3 separate regions of the Homo sapiens genome follow, and all the other regions are linked to region 1. The links come from fine-mapping of genetic effects on gene expression. A gene starts in region 1. Each other region holds a variant in brackets. All regions are shown on one strand. Distances are from middle to middle.

Evidence for each region. PIP is the estimated chance that this variant, and not a neighbour inherited with it, causes the effect.
Region 2: its variant is the best candidate, but not a certain one, in a credible set for the expression of OSBPL5 in whole blood (TOPMed, PIP 0.52).
Region 3: its variant is the best candidate, but not a certain one, in a credible set for the expression of OSBPL5 in whole blood (INTERVAL, PIP 0.84).

Annotation. Positions count from the first base shown.
Region 1 is chr11:3,162,257-3,167,475 of GRCh38, reverse strand. It overlaps OSBPL5 (oxysterol binding protein like 5), which reads left to right and starts at 2,166. Exons shown (of 22, transcript NM_020896.4): 1 at 2,166-2,260. RefSeq lists enhancers at 972-1,684, 3,428-4,121.
Region 2 is chr11:3,135,761-3,140,979 of GRCh38, reverse strand. All of the region lies in intron 1 of OSBPL5 (oxysterol binding protein like 5), which reads left to right. Among named protein-coding and RNA genes, the nearest start is that of OSBPL5, 27 kb to the left of the region's middle. RefSeq lists enhancers at 4,049-4,656, 4,657-5,219. The variant T/C (reference allele first, on the strand shown) is at 3,190.
Region 3 is chr11:3,109,930-3,115,148 of GRCh38, reverse strand. All of the region lies in intron 7 of OSBPL5 (oxysterol binding protein like 5), which reads left to right. Among named protein-coding and RNA genes, the nearest start is that of OSBPL5, 53 kb to the left of the region's middle. RefSeq lists a silencer at 4,915-4,974. The variant A/G (reference allele first, on the strand shown) is at 3,027.

The DNA of each region.
Region 1 (5,219 bases):
GTGGGGCCTACTGGGCGTGCCCCCCTAAAGCTGGTGCCATTGGCACCTGGCTCTGCCCATCTCTGAGACCTCTGACGCCTTCATTTCCTGCGTTGGCCACCAGGCACAGATGCTGTGTCCATCTGACAGGAGAGGAAGCGGGGTCCCAGGAGGAACAAGCCACTGCCTGGTGACAGAGCTTCTTTCTGGCAGCAGCAGGATTCGGACCTACCTCTTGCTGGGGGCAACCTCTTCGGCTCACTGCCTCTCCAAAACCAGGCAAGAGGCTGGAAATGGGGCTTTCTGGAAAAATGCAGAGCCTGCTGGGAAGTGGGGCAGACAACTGACACCTGTCACTGAGCCTGGCAGGTGGCGTGTTCTTCATTTCTTGCATGGCCATCTGGCTGTCAGACACTACCCAGTGAGAGGCTCAACCCTCGTCCTGCTCCACCCCAGCCCCACCCTGCTGTCATCTATGGCCCCTTCCCCCACCCTCAGGTGCCTCTTTGACTTTTGACCTCTGCCCTCAGCAGTGTCATTTCATGAAACCCAGGCCCTGGACAGCCAGCATCAAGCAACTGGCAACCTTCCCTACTGCCGCCCCTGAGACCTCCGCCCTAGGGATAGGGGCTTTGTTTTCTTCCCTAATTCCCTTTGGATTGGCTCCAGCAACCAGCAAGTTACCAGGCAGCAGCACCTCAGCTTTGGGCGGAGTCTTCAAAGAGCAGACCCAGCAGTTGTATGTGGATCCCAGCTGCACAGACCCTCTCCTGCAGAGGCAGAGGCCGCCTGCCACAGGCCACGCGGAGCAGGGTCCCACCATGGCCCTGAGCATCTTGACTGAGCAGTTCTGCATCCCAAGGCCTCACAAGGTGACTATGGAATGGCAATGCTAGCCCTGGGGGTAAGCTTAGGGCAAGTCCGATCAGCCCACTCGCCTCCGTAAGCCGTGGGTTCCTGTGATCCGCACACAAGCGGCTGGTGCTGCTATCCCCAGGAGGATACCCACCAACTTGTCTAACGGGGTGGGCAAGGCCAGGGCTGAGACGGGAAGGGGTCTGGCTTGTTGTGGGCAGAGCACCTGCATGCTGTGCCGTTCCCCCTTCAGGTGCTGGAAGGAGCCTTCCTGGGCCGCTCGCCCTCCGCAGCCCTGCTGGGAGGTCTTGCAGACGCCCATGATAGCCAGGCTTGCGGCCTCCCGAATGCAACTGCAGCGTGAAACCGTAGAAACACACGTGTCAGTGGCAGTTCTGCCTGGGGAGGAGCCCAGGGCTCTCTGCGGAGGGTCAGTTCTGTCCCTGTTAAGGTTCTGTGTGGAAAAGACTCCACGCCCTCTTGGGGTCTACCTACATCTGGGGATGCCCGAGCCCAGCTCCCAGTTTTTCTGGTCATTTGGGGACATACCATAGGAAGGACCTGCAGTGCACCTCAGGCTTGGACACTAGGGATGCAAACGCCCTGGGGCCAGCCCTGGGCCCACACCCAATTTAGGGTCTACAGGCAGGGAGCCAGGGGCCAGGGGAGGACTTCTCAGCTCCCAAGGGGATGCTGTTTAGGGGAATTAGAATGTCTTTTATATACAAGAGAACTGAGGGGTCTAAAAAGGTCTCTGGGGGGTAGAAGAAGGTGAGGAGAAAACACAGGAAGAAATGCACATGAGGGGAGGTTCTTGTCAAAAGGGTCCTGAGAAAGACGTACAGTTAGAGTGTGACTGAGGGTCCTTCTTAGCACATAAGGGGCAGGGACAACGGGCTCAGATGTCTGGGGCTCCTCTTGTGTTCTGATGGCTCCTGAGACGGGGAGAAACGGCGACAGTTTCCTGGGTTCAGGAAGGGAGAGGAGGCGCCTCGCACCCTGGCTAGGGTGGGCTGGGGGCCTGCACCCCTAAGTTGGAGAACCCCACGAAGCTGACCCCACTCACCGCTGCCCACCCCGCCAAGCCTCCTGGCCATTTTCAGCGGAGTGTCCCGACCTCTGGCCGCCCGGGTGGGTGTGAGCCCCGGAGCGCGCGCGGGGGGTTGGGGGATGAGGAGAAGCGGCAGCCGGTGGGGGGCAGCCCCTGGGCGCCCGCTCCGCGCGGCGATTCGGCCCGGGTTTTGCGGCCGCCGCGCCTCCTCCTCCCGCCTCCGGGCTCCCTGGGCCTCCTCCCTCCGCCGCGCCCTCGCTCCGCCTCGCGCGGGGGGACCATCTGCTGGCATTTCCTGCAGCCAGGCCCGCGCCGCCAGTGGAGCCCCCGCGCGCCCGGCCGGCCCGGAGCACCGAGCTCGCGGCACGGTAGGAGGTAGGAGCGCGGCGGCCCGGGGGGCGGCAGGGCGGCGGGGGGATGGCGGGCTGGGAAGGATCCGGAGGGCCCCGCCGGGCAGGGCCGGAGCGAACCGAGGGCCGCGGGGGGCCGGCCGAAGGGATCCAGGAGCTCGCGCCGCAGCCCCGCGGACCCTGGCAGTAGCCAGTGCGGGGAACCACGCCGCGGGGCCGGTCGCGCGCTGGGGAGCTGGGGAGCGCGGGAGCCTGGGGGCGCCCCGGGCCAGGACGGGTCGGCGCCTGGCGGGTTGGGGCGGGTGGGGCCCGCGAGTGGGAAGCGGCGCGCCCAGCTCGGCTCCCCACTTGGTGGGGCTTAAAGGAGCCGGGACCGCCAGGGAAGGTGGCTGGGTCTGACCACCACAAACCCTGGCCAATCAGGGGGTCTGTCCCCCCAGCTCGGCCGACGCGGGCTCCAAGGAGCCAGGTCTTGATGGGTCTGCAGGGGGTCTGGGATCTGAGTCTGGCGTCCCAGCTGCGGGCTTGGGAGGACTGCTGTGTCTGAGTCCGCAGAGTCAGGGGGCTGCCTGGATTACAGGCTAGGGAAGGACCTTGCCCACAGCCCCCATCTCTGGGGCACTGACCCCCTGAAGATGTGGAGCCTTAGGGATTGTTGAGGTGCCTGAGTCCTCAAGAGGGTCTTGTGCACTTGAAGATTCCTCCCGGGGAGCGGGGTGCAGGAGGGTGGGGCAGGCAGGAAGGAGGCTGGAGTCTGCAGCCCCCCGGGCAACAGGCCCGTCCTGGGCTTCCCAGGCACCGCCCCCAACCCCCACCCAGACCGCTGGGCTGCCTCCTGTCAGAAGCCAACTGGAGTTAGGGTTTGGGGTGACTCCTGGGGGTATGGAGGGGTCACAGGGTGGGCTTACCTGCCCCTCCCTCGTCCCTGGGCTGAGCCCAGCCCCTCCCTCATCCTTGGGCTGAGCGGGTCTGCCCCGCCGAAGCGGCTGGGTGGATTTCCTCTCTTGCCGTTTCGCAACTTGCTCCCCTCTGTGTGTCTGCCCCAGTCTCTTCAAGGTGCCTTTTACAGGAAGACTTCTGTAAGGGTCCCACCCCACCTGATACAGCCTCCCAAAGCCTGGAGAAGTGGGCCAGCCTTTGGGATCCTAGATAGATGCTCTTGGGTCTGCCTGCACCAGGGCTGATCCAGATCCCAGACTGAACAGAAACTCTGCTCCCCAACCCCAGGAGTAAGGCCCCTCTGCACGTTTTTATCCCACCTCCTTGGTACACAGGGCCTTGCTGTTCCTTGAACCTGCCAGGTGAGTGGGGGCTTTGCAGGCATCGGGCAGGTTTGTGGCAACCTGGGGTGGCATCATGTGCCCAGCTGCTCCCTTCTGGTCTCAGGCTCCAGAACTGCAGATCCTATTGTCTGCCTGCACGCGTGTGGGGCTGGCCTGGGGTGCCAGGAGGCAGGCACCGCGTGTGTCTGTCTTGCCAGGCTGTGTTTAAGAAAGGTGACACAGCAGATAGGCCGGATGAGGAGCCTCTGACCTGCAGTCCTGGGCCTGGTCTCAGAGAGGCTGCCCTGCAGATGTCGAACCCCGGGCAGCCATCCTGCATGTCCAGTGGAGGCTCCTTTCTGGGTCCAGATTGGGCCATGAATAGGCCATGTTCTTCAAAGGACTGCTTTCAGCTCTTTACAGAATACCAACGCAAGACCGCCCCCCCCACCCAACCCCTACCCAGGATTGTATTTACTATGCTGAGAATGCCTGGTATCAGTTTCTCTCCTGAGATCCTGGCCTCACTCTGAGCGCTGATAGTAATCTGACATGTAACGCTTGGGGGAGGGAGAAACACTCTGTGACAAGCCGGCGGGTGGAAGGGCTGTGTGTGTCTCTGCCAGCTGTGTTTTGGGGACTGGTGCTCTCTGCTGATTCTGTGGTTAAGCCTGCACACGTTTGCACACATACAGGCACAGTGTGCAGGTGGAAAACTTACCCAAGATGACAGAAGGTGCCCCCCGCCCCCATTCCCATTTATTGTTCAAGGGACAGGTGAATCTGAGCCTGTGACCGCAGCTGAGAAATGTTGTGGACCCAGCTCAGGGTTCTCCCGGAGAGGCCTGGGGAGCTGGAAGCTCTGACCTCCGGGACAGGGGGTTGTAGAGGGGCCGAGGCCCAGGGTTGCACAGTGCCAAAAGGATCCCGGTCATTTTGACAGGAAGGGAGCTGTCGGGGAGGGAGCCGTTAGGTGCAGCTCCCCTTGTGGAGTCCAAGGGCCAGGTGGGTAGAAGTGCCCACCACTTGCAGGGTTGGCAGGGGAGCCCAGGGAGTGCACCAGTGTGCTGGGGGGTAGATGTTGGGGGGTACAAGTGAGGGCCACTGGCCTCCCGACAGGGACAGGCATGCTGCCCTGGATGTCCTCATGCTGCTTGTGACCGGCACAAAGGAAAAGAATATTGTTCTCGATGCCAGCTTTGCTTGATGACTTACCGAGCCTGCAGCTTGAGGAGGCAACTGACAGCCTGAGGATGGGGCTCCTGGGCTGGTCAAGATTTTTAAAGGTTTTGGGGCCTTGGTGGCTGGGTCTTGGCCACGGCTGGGTAACCTTTCCCGTGGAGATGTATGGGCAGATAGTGAAGCTGCTCCGGAGAGTGGTAGGGTTGGCGGTCGAGTACAAAGGACTTGGACTAAGGACCGCGTTGTTCTCTTAGCATCACAGTTGTTCTGAGCCAGGGCCTCTGGGATCATGTCCACGAGGATGTGAGATTGCCTTGTGCTGGCATCTACACTAAGCGGAGTGGGCACCAGCTGTGTCCTCAGGACCAGGGCTTGAGGTGGGAGATGGGGAGGGGGTGGGACATGAGCCTTCTTGGCTGGCTTAGAGGGATCCAGAATTCCTAGAGGGCCTTTGTTGCAAATCTCAGAGCCACCCAGGCTGAGAGCAAATGCTTTGCTCGGCCTCCCAGCCCACCTCACATCCGGCTACTCCCTCCAGGG
Region 2 (5,219 bases), 26 kb after region 1:
GTGACCCCTGACCCTTGACAGATGGCATCGGGGAAGGAGTGGCTCTGAGGTGGTCACCTGGCCCCAGGGCCCCCTGGGCTGTCACACCCATGGGCTGACCAGAGCACCAGCTGCAGCTCTGCATGGGCGGGTAGGGGTGGGGTAGGCACCTCACCTTGATACACCCAGGGGCAGCCTCAGCTCCTGGACATGAGGGGCCGCCCCAGGTACCCACATACCCCAAGGAGGACTAGGATGGGACGTGTGGGCAGCAGGTGACCTTATGACCTCTCTGGTCTTGGAAACAAGGCTCCTACAGCCAGTCCTGGGTAATGTGAGCTGGGGGACAGAGGGGAGCCGGGACGACGATGCCTGTCCACTGGTGGGGCAGCATGTACTTGGGTGGACAGAGGGCACTGCCTGGGGTCCTGGCTTCCCTCGGTGCCCCTCTCTGCTGGGGGAGGCCCTGCGTGCTCACGGAGTGTTGAAAGTGGGCTACCAGGTCAAGGCCTTGTGTTCCCCCTCAGACTGGGACCCCTGAGTGTCCACACAGGCCTCTCAGGAGGACACGCTGTGCTGGCTTTTCCTGGGCTGCCTTGGCCCTGGGAAGGGTGTCCTAGCTTGGCTGTGAGCCCTACCCTGCCTGTCCAGCACCTGAGGGATACAGGGGAGAGCTTGGCTGTGTGTGTCACTCCTGGGTGGCACCATGCTGGCCCTTCACAGAGAGCATTGCTGTGGGCTGCCCCTTCCAGAGCTGAACTCAGCAGCCTGGCCAGGGAGACACCACTGCAATTATCCCCTCCCTCCTTCTGAGGACTCAACCTCTGTTAATACAGCCCGAGATGGTGGCTGCAATTTGGGGGACCTTGGCCGGGTTCTCCTCTGCAGAGGGAGCTCCTTGGCAGAGGTGCTGCTTGGCGGACCACTGCACACCCCCCTCCCAGGCTGCACAGCCGAGCAGTGGGCCCAGAGCTTGCGATGAATGATCTTGTGAGGCTGGCTTCTCAGAGCAGGGGGGGCACCTCTGCAGGCCTGCCAGGAGCTGCAGGGAAGAGCTCCTGTTGGTGTCCTTGGCCAACCACAGGCCAGGCTGTGAGCGCCCCACCCCACCACCAGCTTCAGCCTCTGCGAGTAAACGCACCCTAGGAGCTTGTGCTCCTTCAGGGCGCGTGGCTGGGCCTCGGGGACTCCAGCAGGGAAGGCTGGCTGCCTGAAGGAAGAGAGGCCGGGGGAAGCAGCACTTGGACCCAGGGTCCAGGAGCCCAGAGAGGGAAGCCGAGAGACAGAGAGAGAGGAGGGGAGGCTGGATGTGCCCTCTGGAAGTGACTCCTCCCCATAGAGCAAGGCAGCAAGGCCTCCCTGGGGCGGGGGCTTGTCCAGAGGCCAGGGGAAGGCCTGCCACCCCCATCCTGCCCCCAAACTCCTGCGGGCAGGGCTGGGTGCCTGGGCTGGTGATTAAAGCCCCCTGCTCACTGGCTTTCCCCAGCTCACTGGAGGCCACTCCTCCCTGCCTTTCCCAGAATGGGCTCAACTCCATCACTGGGGTCTGTCTCCACCTCTGCCCCAGCCTGGTGGCTCTTCCTTCCCCCATCATCCTGGCAGGTTGCTCGTGGCCCCACAGAGCACTGGCAACAGCACAGCCAGCACCTTCAGAGCTGATGCCCCTGGCAGACCCCAGCAGGCTTGGCCACGGCCCCAGCCCCGGGGCCACCCGTCCCGCACAGCCTCCTGGTCTCCGCTCACTCAGCTGGCCGGTGGCCACCTGCTCCTCCAGGGCTGGAAGCTTCCACCTCCCTGGCTCTCAGGCCCACTGCCTCATGGTCACCCCAGGGTCCCCTGAACGGGAACAGCTGTGGTGGTGTGTGGGTGGGCAGTGGGGGAGACTGAGGCTGGAGGGTTTTGGGGGAGAGTGTGGGCCTGCTCGCACCCCAGGATCCCCACTCGGTGTCAGCGAAGACCCATCACCCGGTCCCTGCCCTTGGAGCTCAGGTGCCCCTGGAGGGCGGAGACGGACCTCAGTCTTGGCCCACAGCAGCCGCGTCCTCTTTGTTTTGCTCTGGTCTTCTTGTTGGAGTTTTTGCCCACACGCCTGGCTCCAGGCTGCCCTGGAATTAGGAGGATGAGCAGGCTGGGGCCAGATGAGGAGACACAGCCACGTGCTCAGCTTCTCAGCCGCGTGTCCCTAGGCGGCCACAGCCCAGCTGCTTCTCCCTTGGTCCCCCACCTGGGTAGGCAGCGGCCTGCAGGGCCGTCCACTGGGGGTGGCACACCAAGCCCAGGAGCCTCACCAGGAGGGCCAGGCAAGGGGGCACTGGCACCACCCAGAAGAGGCCCCAGGTGTGCCTGAGGGCATTCAGGACAGAGGCCAGCCCCACAGCACGGCAGGCGAGCGTCTTTTCTGGAAGTGAGTGTCCAGGCTCCACTGGGGGCCCAGGTTCATGTCTTATTTCCAGTGTGAATGCTGAGGCTCAGCGTGGCGGGTTTGAGATTGCGTCCACAATCCCAGCAGGCCCCTGCCTCCAGCTGCACTGCCTCCAAGTGACGGCCCCCACTCCCTTACCCCTCCCTCCCCGGCTGACCCCTGCTGCCACCTGGCTGCAGCTAGCATCTGAAAATCGGAGTCTCCTTTCAGTTGGGACAGGTGGGGTGGGTCTAGCTGGGAGGTGGTGGGTCTAGCTGGGAGGTGGTGGGGCCAGGCCTGCCTCAGGGACCACGCCCAGCCCGCCCCCATGCCAGGGCTTCTTAGGGCTGGTGGAGTGATCGACTACAGGGGTGTGGGGTCGGGGTACCAAGGCCAGCTGACCCAGTAGCTGCTCTGAGCCTTCAGTGGGCCTGGTGTCCATCAGGAGGACAGGTGGACAGGGCCGGGGACGGGCTGGCCTGGCCGGGCCCACAGGCACAGGACTTGGCTGAGGCAGCCCGGAGAACACGCAGGCATGGCTCGATGCTGCGTCCTCAGCAGTGCAGGCCACTTCCTGTGCCCCTCTTGAGGTTCAACCACTCCACAGCTGCCTCTGATAAATGTCTCCCCAGAGGGAGGCCTGGCCTCCCCCTCAGCTCCACAGCTATCTCCAAAGTGCAAAGGGGATTTGGGGCTTCAGCTGTGCTCCTTTGAGGGGATCCCAGGCGCAGCCTGGCCCACGAGACCTTAGATGGGCCGTTTCCCCTCTTGGGGTCCCAGTGTGTTTGTGTGTGATGAGGGTGTCACTT[T/C]GTCACCCAGGCTGAGTGCAGTGGCATGACCATGGCTCATAGCAGCCTCGACCTCCCAGGCTCAAGCAATCCTCCCACCTCAGCCTCCTGAGTAACTGGGACCACAGGCATGTGCCACCACAACCGGCTGTTTTTATGTTTGTAGAGACAGGGTCTCGCTATGTTGCCCAGGCTGATCTCGATCTCCTAGGCTCAAGCGATCCACCCGCCTCAGGCTCCCAAAGTGTTGGGATTACAGGCTTGTAATCCCAGGTGCAGTACACCCGGCCCACTGCATCTTTAAAATGTGATGATGACCCCTGCTCCCCTGCTCCCCGCACCTTGCGAGCATTCCGAGAATCATATCAGATGGGACAGAACATCCAGGAGGACCTGGGGGCTTTAAGGTCCATCAGTGCAGCAGATGTCCTGGGAAAGCGCATGTCCCAAGCCCCCCAGGGCCCAGCTGCCACAGCTGAAGTGCATGCCACGGCTCTCTGAAGAGGCTGCTGCTCCTGCAGGGGTGGTCAGGCTGCCCACATTAGCACTAGGCATTCGGTCCACCCAGACACAGCAGCCTGGTCTCTTATGCTGCTGTCTGCTCTCAGGGAGTGCATCTGTTGCTGTGGTGGTCTCCCTGGGGTGACTCAGGAGGCCTGCGTGGTTTCCTCACAGCAGGATCTTCATGGTCACTTGCATTGACCTTAGCAAGTTTCTGGAATGCAAACGTATGGTGTTGACATGATGGCTGCTGTCCTTTAACTGATGGCTGCTGTCCTTCCTTGGGACCCACTGACCTCTCCATCCCATGTGCGAAGAGCCAAGCATTTGGGCTTATGTTCCTTTATCCTTGTGATTTTAGAGCATTTCCCCTCCACAGTCTTGAACGAGAATCTATCTGGTTTAGGCAGAAGCATCTGTGCCGGATGTTACTGCTGAAGGCTGGCTGCGGAGTTCCTGCTTTTCTGGCCCCTGCCAATTGATGGAGCACCCCAGTGGCCAGAGCCTCCTCTCTGCCCCCATGCAGCGCGGCCCAGCCCTGTCACTCTGGGCTGTGGGTGAGGAAGCCACATAGGCGTGGAGGGGGCTGGGTCTGGGCTCACACTCACCTCTGCAGGCGCCTTCCCCAGGGCCTCCTGTGGGCCTGGGACATCATCTCCCTGACTCAGAGCAAGTCCTGATTTACAAACAGGGCCTGAGAGATGAAGGTGGCCAGCTGAGGCCACACAACCACTGGAGTCATGGCTGGGCCCTTTTCCCCAGCTCTGCGGTCCCCAGGCCTCTGCAGGAGGACAGAGGAGGAATTGGGCACAGGAAGGATGCGGAATGAGTCCAGGACTCAGCTGGATTCCTTCTCAGAGCTTCAGCCTTTCCCAGAGCTGAGGCAGTGTCTGCCCCTGGCCAAGGTTCAGCTAAGTGTGGCCCCAGCTGATGGCTCTATGTGGCCTGAGGAGGCGCCAGTGACCTTTCTTTACAAGAATCCCTTTATCCTAGCCTGAAGGCGAGCGTCTGGGAGGCAGGGGGTAAGGAGCACTTTGGAGGCTGGATTACTGCTGGGAAGGCAGCTGGCGGAGGCAGGGGGGCCATGTGCACTGGCTCTGGGTGGGGCCCCCATTGGGCCTGGGCCCCATGCTGCCAAACAGCTGGCCTTGGCGTGGGGTCAGAGAGCATGGCCCCTCCCCAGGTGTCCAGAGGCAAGCATCCTCAGGGACACAGGGCTGGCCAGGCAGAGGCAGAACCTGACCTGTCCCTCCCCATCTGCTCTGGGCTGGCACCACATGGGACCTCTTGTCTCCCAGTGGTGGAAGGGGTCTTTCATGCCCCACATGAGAAATGGAAGGAAGAGCCTGCTCCAGCCTATGCAGTGGGGGTTGGGGAGGGGTGGTCAGCCCAGAGTCAGAGCTCACTCCCTTCCTGTGCCCTCGCCTCTGTCCCCTCCGCAACTCCTAGGTGGCCCAGGAAACTCAGCAGGGCAGGAGGAAGTGGGAGCCATGAGGAGGGGACCAGGAGGTGCCTGTGGTTAACAGGAAGGGGGGTCAAGCAGTGGCTCT
Region 3 (5,219 bases), 52 kb after region 1:
TTTTCTTTAAGAAAACATTGTTAGCATCAGGCCACACACACACAAAAAAACAGAACCTGAGGAGGAAAACAAAACTTATATGAGCTGAAAATGAGTTGAAGGGAAGTGTTACTATTTTGTTCCTTTTAAGAGGGAAGAGAAAACTGAAACTGGCAAGATGCAATGAAAGTTGAACTTTGGGTTAAAATTAAAAAATTAAAATATCTTATAATTGATTAAGAGTAAATCAACCTCTTAAGAAAATGTCGGCCAGGTGCGGTGGCTCATGCCTGTAATCCCAGCACTTTTGGGAGGCCGAGGCAGGAGGATCACGAAGTCAGGAGATCAAGACCATCCTGGCTAACATGGTGAAACCCCATCTCTACTAAAAATACAAAAAAAAATTAGCCAGGCGTGGTGGCGGGCGCCTGTAGTCCCAGCTACTCAGGAGGCTGGGGCAGGAGAATGGCGTGAACCCAGGAGGTGGAGCTTGCAGTGAGCCAAGATCACGCCACTGCACTCCAGCCTGGGCAACAGAGCGAGACTCTGTCTAAAAAAAAAAAAAAAAAAAAAAAAAATCATTGTTCTAACCAATTCTTTAGTCTATAACTGTTTTTTTACATCAAACCCAATCTCTAGAAAGACCATTATAATTTCCCTTTAGTCATAGACAACTTGATCATATAAAAGGGTTTTTTTTTAATAGATCCTCTTATTGTGACTTCCATAGACCATTCATGCCACGCTTGGACTTTCTGGTTTGTCCTGAACATCCCTCTTTCTTAAACAACCAGTCATTTTACTCTAGGACTAAATTTACCATACAAGATTCTTTCTCATATGAAATTATTTCTCTTTAAGCTTTCTTACTCTCCACCAAAAAACACTTTTTTATAACTTTCTTTACATCTCTTTTACTCTTTTATTTCCTGGTTCCTTTTACCTTGTTTTATACATGATCTTTAAATAAGCTTTGAATTAGGCAAAAATTGTTCACCTTTTTCAAAAGGACATGCTTTCTTTTAGAAAGCATATTTTCCTACAAATATATTTTTATTGGAAAATATCCAAATAGTGAAATATCTTATTTAATCTAACTTTAAATTCTAAATTATGATGAATTTGTCTACAAGTATTTGTCCTATTACATTTACCTAATTATTTTAATCATTTACCTAGATTATTTATAAAAACTGCAATTGTCATTATTTAAATTATGGAAACACCATTGCAAAATTATAACTGAGACAGTGAAAGAGATTTGACCTAACTGACTCCATCTTGTTTCTAACCTTCAAGCTATCCTTGTTCATTCCTGGGCATAGGTCAAACTAACTTTGGGAGGAACTTAGTTTATAGTTTACCTGAAACAAAGACTATAACAGTCTTTCTCAAAATGAACCTTACTGCCTGTGGACTAGACTACCTAAAGCCACCAGATTAGAAGTTATGGTAATCTTACTAAATTTAAGATGTAGCTATTTTTATTAAACCAATATAAATTTTTTTTTTTTTGAGACGGAGTCTTGCTCTAGTCTCCCAGGCTGGAGTGCAGTGGTGCGATCTTGGCTCACTGTTACCTCTGCCTCCCAGGTCAAGCAATTCTCCTGCCTCAGCCTCACGAGTAGCTGGGATTACAGGTGCCTGCCAACACACCTGGCTAATTTTTGTATTTTTAGTAGAGATGGGGTTTCACTATGTTGGCCAGACTGGTCTTGAACTCCTGACTTTGTGATCCACCCACCTCAGCCTCCCAAAGTGCTGAGATTACAGGCATTATTAAAGATTACACAAGCAAAGATCATTCTGTCTTGGGCTGGGTTTATAGTTTCGTAACTCCTATGCCAAATTTTGACACCTCATGGTATTTGGCAGGGATAAGTATGAAATTGCTTGATTAATAAATGCAAACAAAAATATATGCTGGCAATTCTTAAGACATTTCTAATATTACTTTACCAATAATTTTAAAGCTAGCTTATTTATTAAAGATTTTATTTAAGTTACATAAACTTGAAAAAGCATTTGACTTGTCTTTTCTTTTTTCCTGATCAAGTATTTGATTCAAGTGCATTTACTTTCTTAAGCCAATCAATTAGAGCCCTTTTATATATTTTCAGTAGTGAAACATTGTGTACACGACACATAAATACATAGACATATTAGGCATGGCAATAGAAGTACATCTCATAGGTTTATAAAAATTTTTTTTTCCTGTCTTAGACTTTCAGATTCTTGATAACCTGTTTCACAACCCTAGGCAATTGTCAGCTAAATAGCCTTAAATTTGCATATTAAGGGAAACAACTCAGGTGAAAATCAAATAGCAAAATTTGCATAAGGTACAGAGAGAAAAAGTCTGGTGGTGCTAGAGGGAGACTAAAGATGGATGCCAAATCAAACAAAATTATAGAAATCTATCATAGGATTGCATAAGGAGACCAATTTTATGTAGTAGGGACTACCTATCATTTAACTGGATCTCTGAGCTCTGGGAAGAGCCCACACTGAATCCTAGGTCTCCAGAAAGGGAGAATTATCATGAGGTTAGACCACGTGATGCTTTTATAGTGCACTTACAAATTTTTTTTAAACAAAGACATTTCTAAGTGTCTAAACCACACTCTTCCTTAAAAGCCCAAGAGTAACCACTGTTGCAATAACTACTTTAGTCAAAAAAAAAAAAAAAAAGAAAAGAAAACACAAAACAGGTTACACAATACAAAAGTAAGCAGTTTAAGAGCTGAGACAAACTTGTCTGTTTACATTCTTGGGGTTTCATAAGAAAAAACAAGTTTCTCCCCCAAGGGGAGTCTGGCACCCTCTCCATTTTCTTTAAGGAACCCCAGGCTACTATAAACTATTTTAGGTCCCCCATGCGGCAGAAGGTGCAAGAGAAAGGAGAGACAGCAGAAGTAAATCAAGAAACAGAATTCAGTCAACTGAGAAGAAAAAACCCTTTTGCTCAAAAAAAGACAAGGTCCTAGGAGAAAAACAAAAACAGAAACATGAAGGTCTCTTAAATACAAACACACACATATGCGCAC[A/G]CACACACATGCACACACACATATGCACACACACATGCACACACACATGCACACACACATACACATGCACACACATGCGCGCACACATACACACACATGCACACACATGCGCGCACACACACACACATGCACACACATGCGCGCACACATATGCACACACACACACACAGCTTGGATGTTAGCTTTTCATTAAACTGACTTTTAACCATTGAGCTTCTTTGAAAAAATCTTTTTAAATCTCATTCCATATTTCAACTAGGACAAATTTCAACGAGGACACAGAAGTACAGTCATTACTCTTTCAGTTTGGCCTAGCTAGTGAAAATGTGGCCTTGTTATATGAATAAAGCCCCTTAGTAGTCAAAATCAAAATCTTTCCTCTTTTTTTTTTCCTTTTGCTGGCCGTTTTTCTCCCCCCATCACGCCACCATTGTGTGTGGGGGTGGGGAGGGGAATTCAGCCACTTCAGAGGCCTTGTTCCCCATAATTTGGAACTTCCTTCAGATTTGATCAAGCCAGATAGAGGTCAATGGGAAAAAGACCAAAACAACAAAAACAGAAACAATCAACAACAAAAAAACAGTTAAGCGAAACAAACAATCGCACAACTTACGTGATCACTGAGTGCTCTAATGGTAAGGAGAAATTAAGACCAGCTGGTTGTTAATCTTAACTTTAGCTAAGACAAACCACAATTCAGTTACTTCCCTAGGGATGGGTCTCAGGCTGAAAACTCAGATCTCCACCATCCTGGGAGCAGGAAAAAAAAAAAATTCATCTTCCCTGTTGGAAGCAAGCTCGAACTCCATAAAGGAGTTACCTGCCTTCCATCGTCATGGAAGCAGGGAAAACTTGCCTTCCTTGTATCGGAAGCAAGTAAAACTCCAAAAAGAGAAGTTGTAAAACAAAATAAACTTTAGATCTCGACCAAATTTTGAGAGATCAGGGATTCTCTGTGGCAGGGGGTGGGGGTGGGGCACGGGGGGAGGTGCTTCCAGGCCTCAGCAAATTGTCTTATTGGTTTGAGCCATAAAGTTAGCTCAAGCTGGTACCAAGCACCAATAGGAGACTTGTGAAAAGTCAGGGGCATCTCCACTCAGAATCCTTCAGTGGTTACCAAAATGTTTGAACCCTGAAAATCTGAGACAGGTCTCAGTTAATTTAGAAAGTTTATTTTGCCAAGGTTGAAGACGCCTACCTGTGACACAGCCTCAGGAGGTCCTGACGATGTGCCCAGGGTGGTCAGAGCACAGTTTGGTTTTAGGGAGACATGAGACATTAACCAACATATGTAAGATGAACATTGGTTTGGTCTGGAAAGGCGGGACAACTTCAAGCGGGGAGGGGCTTCCAGGTCATAGGTAGATAAGAGAAAGATGGTTGCATTTTTTTGAGTTTCTGATGAGCTTCTCCAAAGGAGACAATGAGATATGCATTTATCTCAGTGAGCAGAGGGGTGACTTGGAATAGAATGGGAGGCAGGTTGGCCCTAAGCAGTTCCCAGCTTGGGTTTTTCCCTTTAGCTTAGTGATTTGAGGGGCCCAAGATTTTCCTTTCACACCAGGCACCATTGAAACAACAGGTTCTACTGTTATCATCCACATTAGACAGGTCAGGAAACTGAGGCACAGGCAAACTGCCAGCAAGAAAGTGCTAGAACGAGAATTTCCCTGACTCCCAAATGCATTGCACGCTGTTGCTGTTCCCTGAGTGGCCGCTCAGGCAGCTGTGACTGCGATGATCCTCCACCTGGAGGGATTCCCTCTTGGCCGTTCCTCCCTCTAACCTGAGGTTGGGGCCCTACCCCACCTCGCCCTCCAGTGGCTGCTCTGGGTAAATGCGGTTGCTCCACCTCCTCTAACCCCAGGGTGATGCCTCCCAGAGCAGTGGGGTGAAGGGCTCCCATCCCGCCGGTGGTGCAGACCTAAAGCAGTCTGGCCTTGACCACGGGGCTCCGGTGCCTCTCAGGTTGGAGTCTCGGTGCCACATCACCCCTGGTGGTCAGATGCCACATCCATGCTCCTTCCTGGGCCATCCTGAGTGCCCCACTATGTGCCAGGTCCCATGCAGGCCCGGGGATGGCCAGGGCAGCCCACAGCCTCTGTGCTCCTGGGTGAGGTGGATAACCAACCATCAGATAAGGCAGGTTGGGCTGAGGTGTGAGCTGAGCCCCTGATAGGGTGTGGGCCACCA